3 separate regions of the Homo sapiens genome follow, and regions 2 and 3 are each linked to region 1. The links come from fine-mapping of genetic effects on gene expression. A gene starts in region 1. Each other region holds a variant in brackets. All regions are shown on one strand. Distances are between the middles of the regions.

Region 1 (5,221 bases):
AAAATTATTACAAACTTCAACGAAATTAAAAATTGTGCCACTAAACATACAAAAAAGCTAATTACTTCGTGTTTCATTAAAACTTTTCTGAAAAGGCAGGCCTCTCACCTCAGACTAGTTTCATGCCTATACTTTCCAACAGAGTTTCTAAAATAACATCATTTTTGTGCTGCCAAGCAAAAAGTCAGATCTGTTTCAATACTGCTAAGTCATGCTCCACAGTGAAACAGCAGCAGCATGTCTGGGATCCCCTTTTCTAGTTTGTCTGATGGGAACCCTGGTACTCACAAGGCACTGTGCACTTGGCTTAACAACTATACACCAAGGTACACACTGCGGGATTATAAAAGTCCCTGCCCTAAAGGACACAAATCACCTCTCAATTCTGGATTGTGCCTTTATTTCTTCCTACCAACACTGCCAATTTTTAAGTTGTTTATAAAGCTTTTAGTTATGGAAGCACGATCTTGGATTTTGATATAAAAATCAACATAGCTGCCAATTCTAACCTCAGTGCAAATGCAACTGGTCCAAAACAAAGGGCAGCCCCTTATCTACCTCATCCTGTCCTCAGCAACATTTCTCTTTTCCAGATCGGGAAACCTGCACGGCCGCTCAGGACTTCTCGATGACTGCACCTTAGAGACCAGAGTGCAGGTTAGCGGGGCTCTCGCTCCATCAGTCAAGTGAGGTCTTCAAACTTCAGGGTGAACTATGGATGTGTTTTTAAGACTCAAGTTTTCACAAAAAAAATCCAAGTTTCAGAAAGAATGGGAGAGTTTCAACAGAACTAAAATATGAGAGCCTCTCTCTAAATAATAAAAATTTTCTTTTTTTTTTTTTTTGGAGACAGTCTCGCTCTGTTGTCCAGGCTGGAGTGCAGTGGTGTGATCTCGGCTCACTGTAACCTGTGCCTCCCGGGTTCAAGGATTCTCCTGCCTCAGCCTCCCGAGTAGCTGGGATTACAAGCGAGCCACCACGCCCAGCTAATTTTTTGTATTTTTAGTAGAGACAGGGTTCCACCATATTGGCCAGGCTGGTCTCAAATTCCCGACCTCAGGTGATCCGCCCACCTCAGCCTCCCAAAGTGCTGGGATTACAGACGTGAGCCACCGCGACCGGCCTAAATAATAGTAATTTTCAACGGAATACATTGGAATCTCATTATAAATGCCTGCTCTGGGCTACGATTTGCTTATCAAAGAATTCACAAGTCATAAACTAGAGGGGGTGGACTCGACGTGATGCCCACTAGGAGAAAGGTGACAAGAGAAGCACGAAGGATAGCGCTTTTCAACCCTGGGAGAGCAGGGAGGCCTTCACCAGAAGGTGGGAACCCACCACGAAGCGCCTTCAGGAGGCCCCAGGATTCCAAACCAATTAAGGGCCTCCTCTTCCGAAAACGGGAGGCGACGCGCTGAGCTAAGCGCGCAGGCTGGGTTGCGGGCCGACACCGAGGCGGCGCGGCCTCGCGACCGCCCTGGGCGGTCACTGGCGAGTCACGGACTCGTTCCGCCAGCGGCCAATCCACCCCGAGTCCGAAACAGAAGACGTCCCTGGGATGAAAGACCCAGGCCTGGGGCTTAAGGTGGAAAAACAACTCATTCCTCGAGGCCCGGAGTCGGGCGTCCCGGGAGAACGGGAAAGGGAGATGAGCGCCCGCTGCGGGGAGAACGCGGTCGGGTTCCTCTCCCCGAAGGTGGCAGCCGCAAAAACACGGCCTCGAAAGCAGTTTCGAGGACGATGGCTCCTGCGTCCCGGGAGTCGCCATGACGCCGCGGCCTGTCCCAGACCCGGCGAGGGAGGGGACCAACCACCATCTCCCCCTCAAGGCCCAAACCGACAAAGAACGGCCCCCGGTACCCCGGCCCCGCCACCAGGGCCACTCCGGGTCTCGCGAGACCCAAGGGCTGCGCCGCGAAGACCTCTGGGAAAGGCGGGGGGAGGGGAGAGGAAGGAAGCGAGACCGGGGCTGGAGGCGGGCCGAGGCCGCGAGTTGAGCCTCAGGAAGCAGAAGGGGCGCGGAAAGATGCGATTGACGTCGCAAGCGAACCAATGACGAGCGAGCTGTGGCAGGCCTCCAGCCAATGGGCAGTGAGGCCTGACGCGGGGGGCGGACGCTGGGGCCGAGGGTAGCTTGAGCGCGGCGGCGGCGTTGTTCAGTCAGAGCGAGAACATTCCAGAGGTGAGTCCGGTGAAGGGGCGGCCCCCTGCCCGGTGCTTCCCGCCCCCTCGACCCCTCGGGCCGCTGGCTGGCGGGGAAGGTGCACTCCCCGACCGCCCACGGCTCACGGCGCCGTCTCTCCGCGCCAGGTCGCCCAGCTCCGGCGCTGACGGGTGTGGACCGCGGACGTCGCTGGGACAGCCCCTCCCCGCTGCTCGGCGGCGGCACCTGGCCCGGCCGCTCCTCGCTGCGCTTCGCCTCCGCCTCCTCGGACTCGGACTCGGGTTTATATCGCGCCTCACTTCATCCCAGTCCCGGGCGAGCAGCGTTGGGTTTATGTCTTTATTTGACGAAAACGGTGAGTCGCGGGCGCGGCGGGCCAGGAGATGGCGGCCGCACAAGATGGCGGCGGCCGCCGCGTGACCCCGCCGCGGCGTGTGGCGCAGTTTGGGCGGACGGCGGGCGGGCGCGGGCCCGGGCGCCGGCCGCCCCCTCCCCGCGCGCTCCCCGGCCCGGCCTCGCCCCCTCCCCGGCATGGCGGGAGCGCGTCGCGCGTGCCCGCCGCTCGGGCTGACTCAGGCTTCAGCTGCTGCATTTGTGAGTCATCGCGCGCTCTGGGGCGGGGGCGGCCCGATCCCGGCACCCCTCGGCCGTGTGTCGCTTCCCGGCTGTGCACCCTCCGGGGCCGCCGGCTCTCGGGGGACGCGCTGGGGATGGGGCCAGACGCCCCGGTCGCGCGCCCCCCTCCTTCGCGGAGCTGCCCGGTTCGCCAGCCCCCGCGGAAACGCCTCGGAGCGCGGTAGCCATGGGGACCAGGGCGAAGGTTAACCGAGTATTTGAATAGCGAGGAAAAGGGAGGCCGGGGCGAGCCTGGCGTTCGCTCGCGCTCTCTTGCTTAATGGCAAATTGTGGGCGAGCGCTGCGTTTAAGGAAGTGCTGCTTTGAAGTAAGCCATGGTTGCCGAAGCAACGATTAGTTGTAGAGAACAGTTCCCTAGGTTGCCCTTAAAAATGAAGACGAACGGGGGTGTGCCTGAGAAGTTTGCTTATCCAGGCGGGGTGGGCGGCGGAGAGGGCTCGGGTTCGTTCTTCAGCACTTCCAGGATGGCCGCAGAGGCAAACCTGCTGATTGCCCTCGGTCTGATGGAATCTCACGGCGGCTGAGGCAGCACAGCTTGTGTTTTCTTGTCAGGCATTTCCCTACCAGTCACAGCTTAGTCGAAATGGAGGCCTTTTTATGTTCCCGCAGATTGTACTGTGTTACATGAGAATGGCTGTTTGCATGTGATCTCAGATGCTTTTTAAGGTGGAGTTAAGCAGAAGCATAACTAGGATGTAAAAAGGAGGCGTTTCCATCCAGCGATGATGTTAAACCTGGGGGGATTTTTGTGTGTTCTTTCCCTTTTTCTTTCAGAGCTGTTGCGCAGCCATTGGTACCTGTATTGGGGAAACATAGCATACAAGCAAGAAGCTTACAGCCTCAGTGGCGAAAATTTTTTCATGTCAGAGACCGAGAACTCTTGCAGTCGTTTATGTCATCCCTTCTTCTCCAGACAGAAGATACCAAAAAGTTGCAATCAAAGATCTCTTCATCTTATTGATAAAGCCACTAATAAGCCAAAATGTCTGTCAATGTCAACCGCAGCGTGTCAGACCAGTTCTATCGCTACAAGATGCCCCGTCTGATTGCCAAGGTAATAAACTGCTCTTCAATTTAGTTGATAGCTCTTTTTGTAGAATTTTGAAGTTTGCATTTGTCAGGGGAAACTGCACAACTAAAATTCTTATTTCCTTTAGGTTGAGGGCAAAGGCAATGGAATCAAGACAGTTATAGTCAACATGGTTGACGTTGCAAAGGCGCTTAATCGGCCTCCAACGTGTAAGTAAAGCTTGGAAAAGTCCACAGGGCATATTATGGATAGAGTCTTCAAAGTCTTTGAGCTGCAAAACTTGTTCTAATTGTATGCTAGCTAATTACCTTACAAGTTAAGTGAGGAACCGTGGTTTATTGGTTGCCATGAGTTTACAAAACTACCAGGGGAACGCATTTAAAGAGTGGATGGCTGGGCGCGTTGGCTCACACCTGTAACCCCCAGCACTTTGGAAGGCTGAGGCAAGCGGATCGCGAGGTCAGGAGTTCTAGACCAGCCTAGCCAACATAGTGAAATCCTGAGTCTACTACTAATACAAAAATTAGCCAGGCGTGGTGGCATGCGCTTGTAGTCCCAGCTACTTGGGAGGCTGAAGGGGGAGAATCGCTTGAACCCCGGAAACGGAGGTTGCAGTGAGCTGAGACCACGCCGTTGCACTCCAGCCTGGGTGACAGAGTGAGACTCTTGTCTCAAAAAAAAAAAAAAAGTGGTGTTCGTACAAATGTGAGTGAGTAGCCAGAGATCTAGTTAACTGTAACGATCCAAACTCCTTTTTCATTCAAATAGATCCCACCAAATATTTTGGTTGTGAGCTGGGAGCACAGACCCAGTTTGATGTTAAGAATGACCGTTACATTGTCAATGGATCTCATGAGGCGAATAAGCTGCAAGACATGTTGGATGGATTCATTAAAAAATTTGTTCTCTGTCCTGAATGTGAGAATCCTGAAACAGATTTGGTAAGTGCTTTTGTGGTTGTCGAAAGAAAAAGCCATATACCTGCTTCTGTGATACCGCTAAGTCACCTTCCTGAGAAGGCAGAGCAAATGTAATTTTAAATCAAACACAAAACTCCAGTTTTCGAGATATTTCCATTCTTTTTTTTAAAGTAGGTCACTGTGTGAAAAAAGTTTTCTTTGCATGTGAAGCTGTCTGTGGTTTAGATGTCCTCTGATTAGATATTTTCATGTTATATTATGGATAACATTTGTTATTTTTTTGGCAGCATGTCAATCCAAAGAAGCAAACAATAGGTAATTCTTGTAAAGCCTGTGGCTATCGAGGCATGCTTGACACACATCATAAACTCTGCACATTCATTCTCAAAAACCCACCTGGTGAGTCTTCCATGATGAACTCCTAAGATCCTAAGATAAGTTACTAACTGTTGGGAACAAAATAGAAGG
Region 2 (5,221 bases), 25 kb before region 1:
TGAAAGCCCTCTTTCTATGAACCAACCTCTGGTGGCTTTCAACTTTTCTTCTGCATCTCCCTCACCTCTCTCAGCCTTCACAGAATTGAAGAGAGTGAGGGCCATGCTCTGGATGAGGCTTTGGCTTAAGGGAATGTTGTGTTTGGTTTGATCTATCCAGACTCCAACTCCCTCCATAGCAGCAGTGAGGGTGTTTCACTTTCTCATCATCCATGTGTTCACCGGAGTAGCACATTTAAATTTCCTTCAAGAACTATTCCTTTGTGTTCACAACTTGGCTGTCTGTCGCAAGAGACCTAGCTTTTGGCCTATCTTGGCTTAAGGAGGCCTGAGGAGTTGGAGAGAGATGGGGGAGCGGCCGGTCTGAGGAGCACTCAGAACACACAACGTTTATCCATTAAGTTCACTATCTCAGAAGAACACGGTTTGTGGTCCCCCAAAACAGTGATGATGGTAACATCACAGATCATCGTAACAGATATAATTCTAATGAAAAAGTTGGAAATACTGTAAGAATTAGCAAAACGTGACAAGACAGACATGAAGTGAGCACATGTTGTTGGGGAAAAAATGATAGATTTGCTCACAGACCTTGAATTTGTTTAAACATTAAAACAATATCTGCAAGATGCAATTAAGTGAAATGCAATCAAATGAGGTTTGCCTGTATTTCTAAAATGACTTAAACGTTGAAAATGTAAAGGGTCCTTTGGACCCACAGAGCCAGTGGTGACGCTGAGGGGGAAGCAATTGCTGTCGATGCTGTAAGGTGTAACAGGGGCCCTTTAGTTACTTAAGAAAATGACCTTGGCCAGGCGTGGTGGCTCATGCCTGTAATCCTAGCACTTTGGGAGGCTGAGGCAGGAAGATCCCTGGAGTCCAGGAGTATGAGACCAGCTTGGGCAACATAGGGAGGCCCTGTCTCTTAAAAAGAAAGAGAGGAAAGAAGGAAGGAAGGAAGGAAAGGAGGGAGGGAGGGAGAGAGAGAGAGAAGGAAAGAAAGAAAGAAAGAAAGAGAGAGAGAGAGAGAAAGAAAGAAAGAAAGAAAGAAAGAAAGAAAGAAAGAAAGAAAGAAAGAAAGAAAGGGAAAATGACCTTCTTTGGGCTGGGCGTGGTGGCTCATGCCTGTAATCTCAGGACTTTGGAAGGCCGAGGTGGGAGGATTGTTTGACCTCAGGAGTTTGAAACCAGCCTGGGCAACATAGCAAAACCTTGTCTCTACTAATAATACAAAAATTAGCGAAGCACAGTGGCAAGTGCCTGTAGTCGCAGCTACACAAGAGGCTGAGGTGGAAGGATCACTTAAGACTGGGAGGTAGAGGCTGCAATGAGCCATGATCATGCCACCATGCTCCAGCCTCAGTGACAGAGTAAGATCCTCTCTTGAAAGAAAAAGAGAGAGAGAAAGAAAGAGGAAGGGAGGAAGGGAGGGAGGAAGGGAGGGAGGGAAGGAGGGAGGGAAGGAGGGAAGGAAGGAAGGAAGGAGAGAGAGAGAGAGAGAAAGAAAGAAAGAAGAAAGAGAGAGAAAGAAAGAAGAGAGAGAGAAAGAACAGAAAGAAAAGAGAAAGAAAGAAAGAAGAAAGAAAGAAAAAAGAAAGAAGAAAGAAAAAAGAGAGAAAGAGGAAGGGAGGGAGGAAGGGAAGGAAGGAAAGAAGGAAGGAAGGAAAGAAGGAAGGAAGGAAAGAAGGAAGGAAGGAAGGAAGGAAGGAAGGAAGGAAGGAAGGAAGGAAGGAGGGAAGGAAAATAAATGACCAGGATGCTTTGTTGAGATGCTGGGCAAAGCGAGGGTGGCTGGCAAGGCCGAGTGGTTGCCGTGAGTGCTGCTGTTTGCTCTGCTCCTGTGAATGTCGGACCTCTCCATAATACTTTTCTTCAGAAACGAGAACAGGAGAATGCTTCAGCAATGCAGCTGTCACTCTGCACAACTGGGAGTGCAAATGACATGCCCTAGTCAGGCCCTGGCATGGAACGTGTCCACCTCCACACTGGGAATAGCAGAAGCCCCACCGGCCGGTCTATCCTGGCTGCCCCAGAGCCTGAGACCCAGTCCTAGCCCAGCAGGTGGTCCAGAGGGAGAGGAGCTCAGGCCCCCAGGGAGGCTCCAAGGCGGGTCTTATCAACACCACTCAGTCAACCGGCCTTGAGAAGGTCAGTCTGAGGGTAGATGGAATCCCAGCTCCTGTCCATCAAGGCACAGGCCTTGATCTTAGGACAACTACTGGTGGGGGGCTGTTCCCTCCCCAGCACAGCAGCTGACAAATGGGGATCCCAGCAAAAACTGCCAGAATCCCTGAAGTTAAAGCTCCATCAGTGCCATGTTTTTGGGTACCTCCTTCCCCAGGCAATGGCAGCAGAAAAGTTTGTGAGAAACCAAGGCTGGCAGGTGCCCAAGAAGGCCAAGAGTGGATGCCATAGGAAGGCTGGGGAAGCCATGGAAGGCACTGCCTTCTCTGCCAGGCCACCACAGTGGTCCCCAGGGCCAGGCTTGATGACAGGCCCCTACATGCCCTTACCCAGCTCCAGCCAGGGTGCCGGGGGGTCAGGCAACCCATCCAGGCCGGTCTCCTTCACAGCTCTGCCCAGAGTCTCTCCAAGATGTGCAGCTGCTTTCTAAGCTGAAACGTCTCCTGGTCCAGTGGGGCCCACTAGCACAACCAGCTCGTCCTGGTTTTAGCAGCGAAAGCCCTGTGTGCTCATCCTGGGGCCTGCTTGCCCATCATTTAAATAACCAAGGAAGGCTGGGTGTGGTGGCTCACGCCTGTAATCCCAGCACTTTGGGAGGCCAAGGTGGGCGGGTCACTTGAGGTCAGGAGTTTGAGACCAGCCTGGGCAACATGGTGAAACCCCATCTCTACTAAAAATACAAAAATTAGCCTGGTGTGGTGCTGCACGCCTGTAATCCCAGCTATTTGGGAGGCTGAGGCACGAGAATCGCTTAAACCCAGGAGATAAAGGTTGCAGTGAGCCGAGATCACACCACTGCACTCCAGCCTGGGTGACAGAGTGAGACCCTGTCTCAAATAAATAAATAAATAGATAAATAGATAAATAAATAAATAAATAACCAAGGGAGGCTGACCCAAGCAATTCTTCCCAACATTCTTCTAGCCTTTCCTGATCACTCTTGAAAACTGCTGGAAAATTCTCTACCTTAAGAACG[C/A]TGGGAAAATCTATCTCCACACTCCCCCTGCCCCATACATACCCACATATGGATGGAGCCTCTCTGAAGGCTTCTCAAGCTTTTGACTGTGACCCCACTATAAGAAATAGGTTTACATTATTGCCCAGTGCGCACACACAAGTACACACACACATGCACACACTCAGGAGTCATAATAGTAAGTACTTAGAGACAATGATAACAGAGACAGGTTGGAGTCAAATAACCAACCCTTCTCACCAGGGACCCAGGAATAGATGCGGCAGCCCCTCGCCGCAGCCTCCGCCTGGGGACAGCTTTTCTGGGGGAAGGCCTCAGGGCAGAATGCAGCCTCCACCTTCCCAGGGCTCAGCTTGGGGGTCAGTGGGAAAAGTCAGAAAGCAAAGATGCAGGGCCAGCCTCTATTCCCCAATCAGGAAGAAACACCGAGAGGGAGAAGCCTCTGCCCGAGACAGGAGGCCCCGGCTGTTTTGTGGGCTGTGCCAGGAGCATCCGGTTTCCAGCCTTGGTTCCCAGGAGTGGTTTCTCCTCCCAGGGCCCCTCTGGCCTCATCTACAAAATAACCTGCAACACCGTGGCACCACTAAGCGCTGTCTTCAGATTCGGAGAGTTTACAAAGATCGTTCTCTCCCTCACTTATTCTACAAATCTTTGTTATGTTACCCAAAAACATCAGACACTGAGCCAAGCACTAGAGCTTAAAAAGACAAAGAAGTCACAGTCCCAGAGCCCACAGAGTCTCAGAGCCCAGCCCAGAGGCACGGGCTCCCCGACCCAACACGCTGCACACGGATCCATATGTGCGCCTGTGTGTTGGGGACGGGGGTGTGGGCAGGGCACAGAGCTGCTCATGGTGGCCAGGTCCCCTGTGCTACAAGTAAGGCAGCTCCTGCCATTGCCACCTCGTCCTCTAGAGAAGCCTTTCCACGAGCCACGCTGTGGTGTTGCCTTTTCCCCGGATGGTCCACGGAGGTTGCAATGCTCAATTAACACGCTCTGAGAATGGAAGTGACAGTGTAGCACAAAGCAGAGGTGACACGCGTGAGCTCACGGCCGGGTCCCCTCCAGCGTCCACCCCCCAAGAAGTCCCCCGCTGTCTGGGCCACCAGTTTCATTCAGCAAATACTATTCTATAAACAGCTGACCCAGATTCTCCGCTTGAATTAGGACGTTTCCCAGGCAGTTGAGGATGTACAGGGATGAATTTCAATGTTGCTTAAAAGCATTAAAGCTTGAAGGCACACTCAGGCCACTCTTCCATGGGGACAATGCTGCTGGCACCATCCGAAGGCCACAGCCCCCAGGCAGCCAGGACCCTCCCAGCGCCTCTCTCGCTCAGGGTTGACTCAAGGAACCTCTGCGGAAAGAGGCGTTTTAAACTTTAATTAACCTACGTTCTTCCCTACGCCTCGTGACCTGACTTTCCATCCTCTCTCCAAAGGGACCTGCAGCAGCAATACAGTCACATTCCATTTTAACCCCAACGCCCGTCAAACGTGGCTTGGCCCCCAGAGCAAAAGACAGGAGCATCAGCAAGTAGGGAGGAAGCGGGGACAGACGCACAGGCCAGGGCCACAATCCCCTTGACCCTCCATGCATCCTCACGGAGGCAAGGTGAGGGAGAGGTCCAGCTGTTCACGCTGGGGGAGTGTGGAGGCTGTGAGAATGCACCTCCCTCACCCCCCACAGCCCCAGGAAGTGTCATCGGCCCTGGTCCCAGGTGCTGGGCTCTGAAATCCATGTTCCCCCAGGCTGCTCCCAGCCAGTGGTCTGGCACGGCAAGGGTACCGAGGCAGGCCCATTCCCAGGGGACAGGAGATTTGCCAATGGCCCTGTGGGCCCTTTCCTCAGGGCCGGACCTGCAGCACAGATCCATAGCCCTCCCCAGCTCCTTCTAGGAGGGCCCAGGTTAACAAACAGACCAGCCACCGACACCACAGCTCATGCCGCCGCCATTCCTCACCCAGTGGTGGCACAGGCGTCCCAGCTGGCAGCCCCTGACACCCTGGCCCCCAGGCTCCATCCTCCATGCAGCGACCAGACCAACCCTTCGAAAACATG
Region 3 (5,221 bases), 31 kb before region 1:
ACCAAACTTCCTGGCTTTCGGTATAAACAAATCCTTTCTAGAGAAATAAAGCATTCCTAGTTCACTTTTGAGAAAGGTGAGCCCCCTGGGGAACTGCAGTGCTGAGAAGTCTGGCGGGAAGGGCACATTCATGGGACTTGATGACAGGGAGGGACTGGCTGGATCTGCTTTGAGCACAGTCCAACCATCTTTATAGTTCATCACAACCAGCCTTTAAAATGCTTCGGGAACATCAGGATAGTGATCACCAGCAGGGCACCGAGCACAGGGCGTAAAGGGGGCTTCTGAGAGGGGGTGTGATGTTCTGTTTCCCGATGTGGGTGCCAGTTCCTCCAAAGTGGTCGGTGTATGAGTGGTCATGGGGCCACACTTAGGTACCTGCGGTTCTCTGTATGTATTTCATATTCCAATACAAAGCTCCAAAAATTGCTTCAGAAGTCAGTTAAGCTTCTCTTCCTCCAGATTCCAAACTCATATGCCAAAAGTTCATTTCTCTGCAGGCCAAAATGGAGCAGCCTTTTATAAACAGGCTTCCTAGAGTTTTGCCCCAAAATATTCCTGTATCCCAGCAGCAAGCACCCTGATGCCCACCCAGTGGTCTGTATCTGTGTCAACCAGCGGTTCTCAGCCTGGCCTCATCCAGGGCCTGAAGCCTACTACAGAACCCCCAGCAGCACGTGGGGTGCACAGCAAAGATCAGCCCTGGACACAGCCGGGTGCTCAGGGCGGGGTGAGGGGGCAGGAGGCAGGACGCAGGAGGTGAGCTGTCCGGGCGGGGCAGGATGAGGGAGTCCTGCATTGCAGAGCTAAGGGGGAGAATCATCAGCACCCTAATTAGCTCTTGATGGCTTCCAAAGCCTTTTAAGTCCTTTTTTTTTTTTTTTTTTTTTATCCCTACAAGAACTCTGAGTGGTAAACAGGACAAGTAACATAATTCCCAGGATACAGGTAAGGACACTAAAGCCCAACCCAAACTGGTGGGTAGCAAGGCCAGGCCCAAACCCAGAGCTCTGGGCTCTAAGCCAGCACCTACTCCCCAACACAGAAAGGAGGTGGGAGCAGCCGGGCCCTAGCCAACCACTCCCGGCCCCTTGGCAGATCAGGCAGAGTGAGGGCACAGGAGGGAGAGAAGACCTCTATGCAGACCAGTGCAGCCAGGCAGGGGTGAGGAGCCCCTGCCACCACCACCAAAGACAAAACTGAGCCTCGATCCAATGCAGACTCCAGGAAATATGGGGCAGGTCCATGACCTTGTGAGAAGGGAATCAGTCAAATCCAAAATGTGGGACATGTACGGGACAACTGACCCAGTTTCTTTAATGAGTCAATGGCATTAAACTAAGGAGGGGTGACAGTTCTAAATTAAAAGACACTTTCAAAGGACCTCAAGACGGCAGTGCATACCGTGAGCAGATCTTATTTAGATCCTGATTTAAGTAACTCAACTATAAAAAGACGTTTTTTTGAACAGAGCAATTTAATTTGGTACTTGGTACATTTAATGTGGCAGTTGGATATTCAATGATATTAATCTTCAATTTACCAGCAGGGTCCAGTGAGTTCTTTTTTTTTTTTTTTTTTTTTTTTTTGGAGACAGAGTTTCACTCTTGTTGCCCTGGCTGGAGCGCAGTGGCACAATCTTGGCTCACTGCAACCTCTGCCTCCCAGGTTCAAGTGATTCTCCTGCCTCAGCCTCCTGAGTAGCTGGGATTACAGGCATGCAACACCACACTCAGCTAATTTTTTTGTATTTTTAGTAGAAGTGGAGTTTCACCCTATTGGTCAGGCTGGTCTTGAACTCCTGACCTCAAGTGATCTGCCCGCCTCAGCCTCCCAAAGTGCTGGGATTATAGGCGTGAGCCACCACTCCTGGCCTATTTTTATTTTTTTAGTTTACTTTTTGAGTAGTTCTAGCACTGTATAAGGATTAATAGTTTGTGAATTTTATTCTGTCTTAGAGACCTTCTACAGAACAAAACCCATTCTGTCTTGCAATTCCTACAGGGATTGGTTCAAGCCTTTTGTAAATCTAAGATATATTTTGGAATCAGGAATCTTATTTTTCCTGTATCTTGAAATATTTTTCTATTTCATCATCCTGAGAATTATTTCATCATCACTCATTTAAGTATTTCCAGTTATGCTAAAAGAGACTAAAATAACAAAAAAATGAAAAGCTGATGCACTTGCCTAAAAAGCAGAATGAAATAAACCATCTCTGCCACAGTATCCTTCCGTTTTCTCACTACATTGCTAACAGTATTGCATCAACTTTCAAGAAGGTAGAAGATAATTCTGGAGATGACAGGCTTTCCTTTGTTTCACTCTTATTGAACAATACAATCAAGCATTCTGAATTTTTCATTTTTCACCCATAACAGCAAGGAGAAGAAAGTTGACTGAG[G/A]GAGACATTCATAATTATAGGCAATTAGAAGCGGGGGAAGGCCCAACACAGTGGCTCATGCCTGTAATTCCAGCACTTTGGGAGGCTGAGGTGGGCGGATCACTTGAGGCCAGGAGTTTGAGACCAGCCTGGCCAACATGGCCAAACCCATCTCTACTTAAAATACAAAAATGAGCCAGGCGTGATGGTGAATGCCTGTAATCCCAGCTACTTGGGAGGCTGAGGTGGGAGGATTGCTTGAACCTGGGAGGCAGAGGTTGTGGTGAGCTGAAATCACACCACTGCACTCCAGCCTAGGAGACACAGCAAGCCTCCATCTCAAAAAAAAAGAAAGAAAAGAAGAAGAAGAAGAAGAAGCAGCTAGGGGAAGGCCAAGCTCCATGGCTCAGGCCTGTAATCCAGCACTTTGGGAGGCTGGGGTGGGTGGGTTGCTTGAGCCTAGGAGTTCGAGACCAGCCTGGGCAACATGACAAAACCCCACCTCAAAAAAAAAAAAAAAAGAAAGAAAGGAAGGAAGAAAGGAAGGAAGGAAAAGAAAAATTGTCCAGGTGTGGTGGTGCATGCCTGTAGTCCCAGATACTCCAGAGGCTGAGGTGGGAGGATTGCCTGAGCCTGGGAGCTAGAGGCTACAGTGAGCTATGATCACACCACTGCACTCCAGCCTGGGTGACAGAGCAAGACCCTGTCTCTTTAAAAGAAAAAAATATATATATATATGGTAGAAGGGACAGACAGCCACTCTGTCCCATTAGCCAGAGGCTAATGATGATGGTGAAATCAATCAAATGGGATAAATTTCAGTGAGCATTCAGATGACCATATCCCAGACAAATTTTCTCAAATCCATATTTCTAATGACACAAAAAATTTGCATTCAATTAACAGGCAAGACTTCACTCAATATTTTGTAATAAGAACTTGGACCACTGCATTTTTTCTAAAAGGATGTATGATGGTATACTTTCACATTTTTTGATGTTTGTGAACAAAATGGGATACATTTCATAAGTGGACAAATGCCAAAAGCAGGTGTTTATACAAAGATACTGAGAGGAAATAGATAATGCAAAATTTTAAATTAATTGATCATTCTAATGGGTGTTTATAGATCAAAAAATGAAAATGTTTTGCAATCATGGAACAAAGAAAATGGCCACACTGTCTCCAACAAAATTGTAAGTGTCAACGATTTCAAAAAGTTCATCCAAATATCACATTTTGACAACATCAGTGCAAGAAGAAGGAAAAGTAATGTTAGCTTAGACACCCCTAGAAGTGCAGTTGAAACCTGGAATTAGCACTTTTAAGGTGGATGAGTTCCAGGCTCATGCAAGGCAGGTGATAAGTAGCCAGTTGCATTCAAAGGATGCTACCAATATACCTTCAAAATCACAAACATGGAATAAAAAGTTCAGTTTGCTATGTCTTCATTCTAAAATGTCTAATGAAGTTGTATTTCACCATCCCTTTATTCTTACTTCTGCAAATGACCAACAGGGACGCCTCAGAGATACTGCAGGTTCTGTTCCAGACCACTCAATAAAGCTAATACTACAAGAAAGTGAGTCACAGTTTCCCAGTGCATATAGAAGTTATGCTTACGTTATAGTATAGTCTATTTATAGTCTATTAAGTGTGCAATAGCATTGTGTCTAAAAAAACAAAGTACATACCTTAATTTAAATATTTTTATTTCTGGCTGGGTGCAGTGGCTCACACCTATAATCCCAGCATTTTGAGAGGCTGAGGCAGGAGGATCATTTGAGGCCAGGAGTTTGAGACCAGCCTGGCAACACAGAGAGATCACATCTTTATATATATATATATAATTGCTAAAAAACATGCAGACAATCACATGAACATTCAGTGAGTGGTAATCATCTTGCCGGTGGGGGTCTTGGCTCAATGTTGATGGCTGCTGACTGATCAGGGTGGTGGCTGCTGAAGGTTGGGGTGGCCATGGCAATTTCTTAAAATAAGACAGCAACGAAGTTGGCTGCATAAAGTGACTCTTCCTTTCATAAAAAAATTTCTCTGCAGCATACAATGCTGTTCGATAGCATTTTATCCACCGTAGAACTTCTTTGAAAATTGGAGTCCATTCTCTCATACCCTGCCACTGCTTTATCAACTGAATTTATGTAATATCCTAAATCCTGTGCAGTCATTTCAACAATGTTCACAGCATCATCACTAGGAGTAGTTTCCATCTAAAGAAACCACTCTCTTCGCTCATTCATAAGAAGCAACTCCTCATCTGTTCAAAGTTTTCTCATGAGATTATAGCAATTCAGTCACATCCTCAGGCGTCATTTCTAATTCCAGTTCTCTTGCTATTTCCACCACATCTACAGCTCTTTCCTCCACTGAAGTCTCAAACCCCTCAAAGTCATCCATGAGGTTGGAATCAACTTCTTCCAAACTTTTGTCAATGTTGGCTGGGCGCAGTGGCTCATGCCTATAATCCCAGCATTACAGGAGGCCGAGGTAGGTGGATCACTTGAGCTCAGGGGTTCGAGACCAGCCCAGCCAAAAAATACAGAAATACAAAAATTAGCCAGGTGTGATGATAGGCACCTGTAGCTACTCGGGATGCTGAGCTTGGAGAATCATTTGAGCCAGGGAGGAGGAGGTTGCAGTGAACTGAGATTGCGCTGTTGCACTCCAGCATAGGCAATGGGAATGAAACCCTGTCTCAAACAAAACAAACAAACAAACAAACAAAAAACCCAATCAAACTCTTGTCAATGTTTGTTGATATTTTGACTTCTTCCCATGAATCACAAATCTTCTTCATGGCATCTAGAATGGTGAATC

Evidence for each region. PIP is the estimated chance that this variant, and not a neighbour inherited with it, causes the effect. A credible set is the group of variants that fine-mapping cannot tell apart.
Region 2: its variant is the best candidate, but not a certain one, in a credible set for the expression of EIF5-DT in anterior cingulate cortex (GTEx, PIP 0.68).
Region 3: its variant is the best candidate, but not a certain one, in a credible set for the expression of EIF5-DT in putamen (GTEx, PIP 0.51).

What each region holds. Positions count from the first base shown.
Region 1 is chr14:103,332,076-103,337,296 of GRCh38, forward strand. It overlaps EIF5-DT (EIF5 divergent transcript), which reads right to left and starts at 2,585. Exons shown (of 1, transcript NR_158216.2): 1 at 1-2,585. It overlaps EIF5 (eukaryotic translation initiation factor 5), which reads left to right and starts at 2,162. Exons shown (of 12, transcript NM_001969.5): 1 at 2,162-2,185; 2 at 2,314-2,522; 3 at 3,578-3,857; 4 at 3,961-4,042; 5 at 4,602-4,774; 6 at 5,041-5,152. The coding sequence starts at 3,786. RefSeq lists an enhancer at 1,618-1,737 and silencers at 2,058-2,477, 2,618-2,667, 2,778-3,017.
Region 2 is chr14:103,307,321-103,312,541 of GRCh38, forward strand. The region is part of intron 1 of LOC105370686 (a long non-coding RNA gene); the gene reads right to left. Among named protein-coding and RNA genes, the nearest start is that of EIF5, 24 kb to the right of the region's middle. RefSeq lists an enhancer at 3,555-4,531. The variant C/A (reference allele first, on the strand shown) is at 3,161.
Region 3 is chr14:103,300,968-103,306,188 of GRCh38, forward strand. The region is part of intron 1 of LOC105370686 (a long non-coding RNA gene); the gene reads right to left. Among named protein-coding and RNA genes, the nearest start is that of EIF5, 31 kb to the right of the region's middle. RefSeq lists an enhancer at 879-1,379. The variant G/A (reference allele first, on the strand shown) is at 2,405.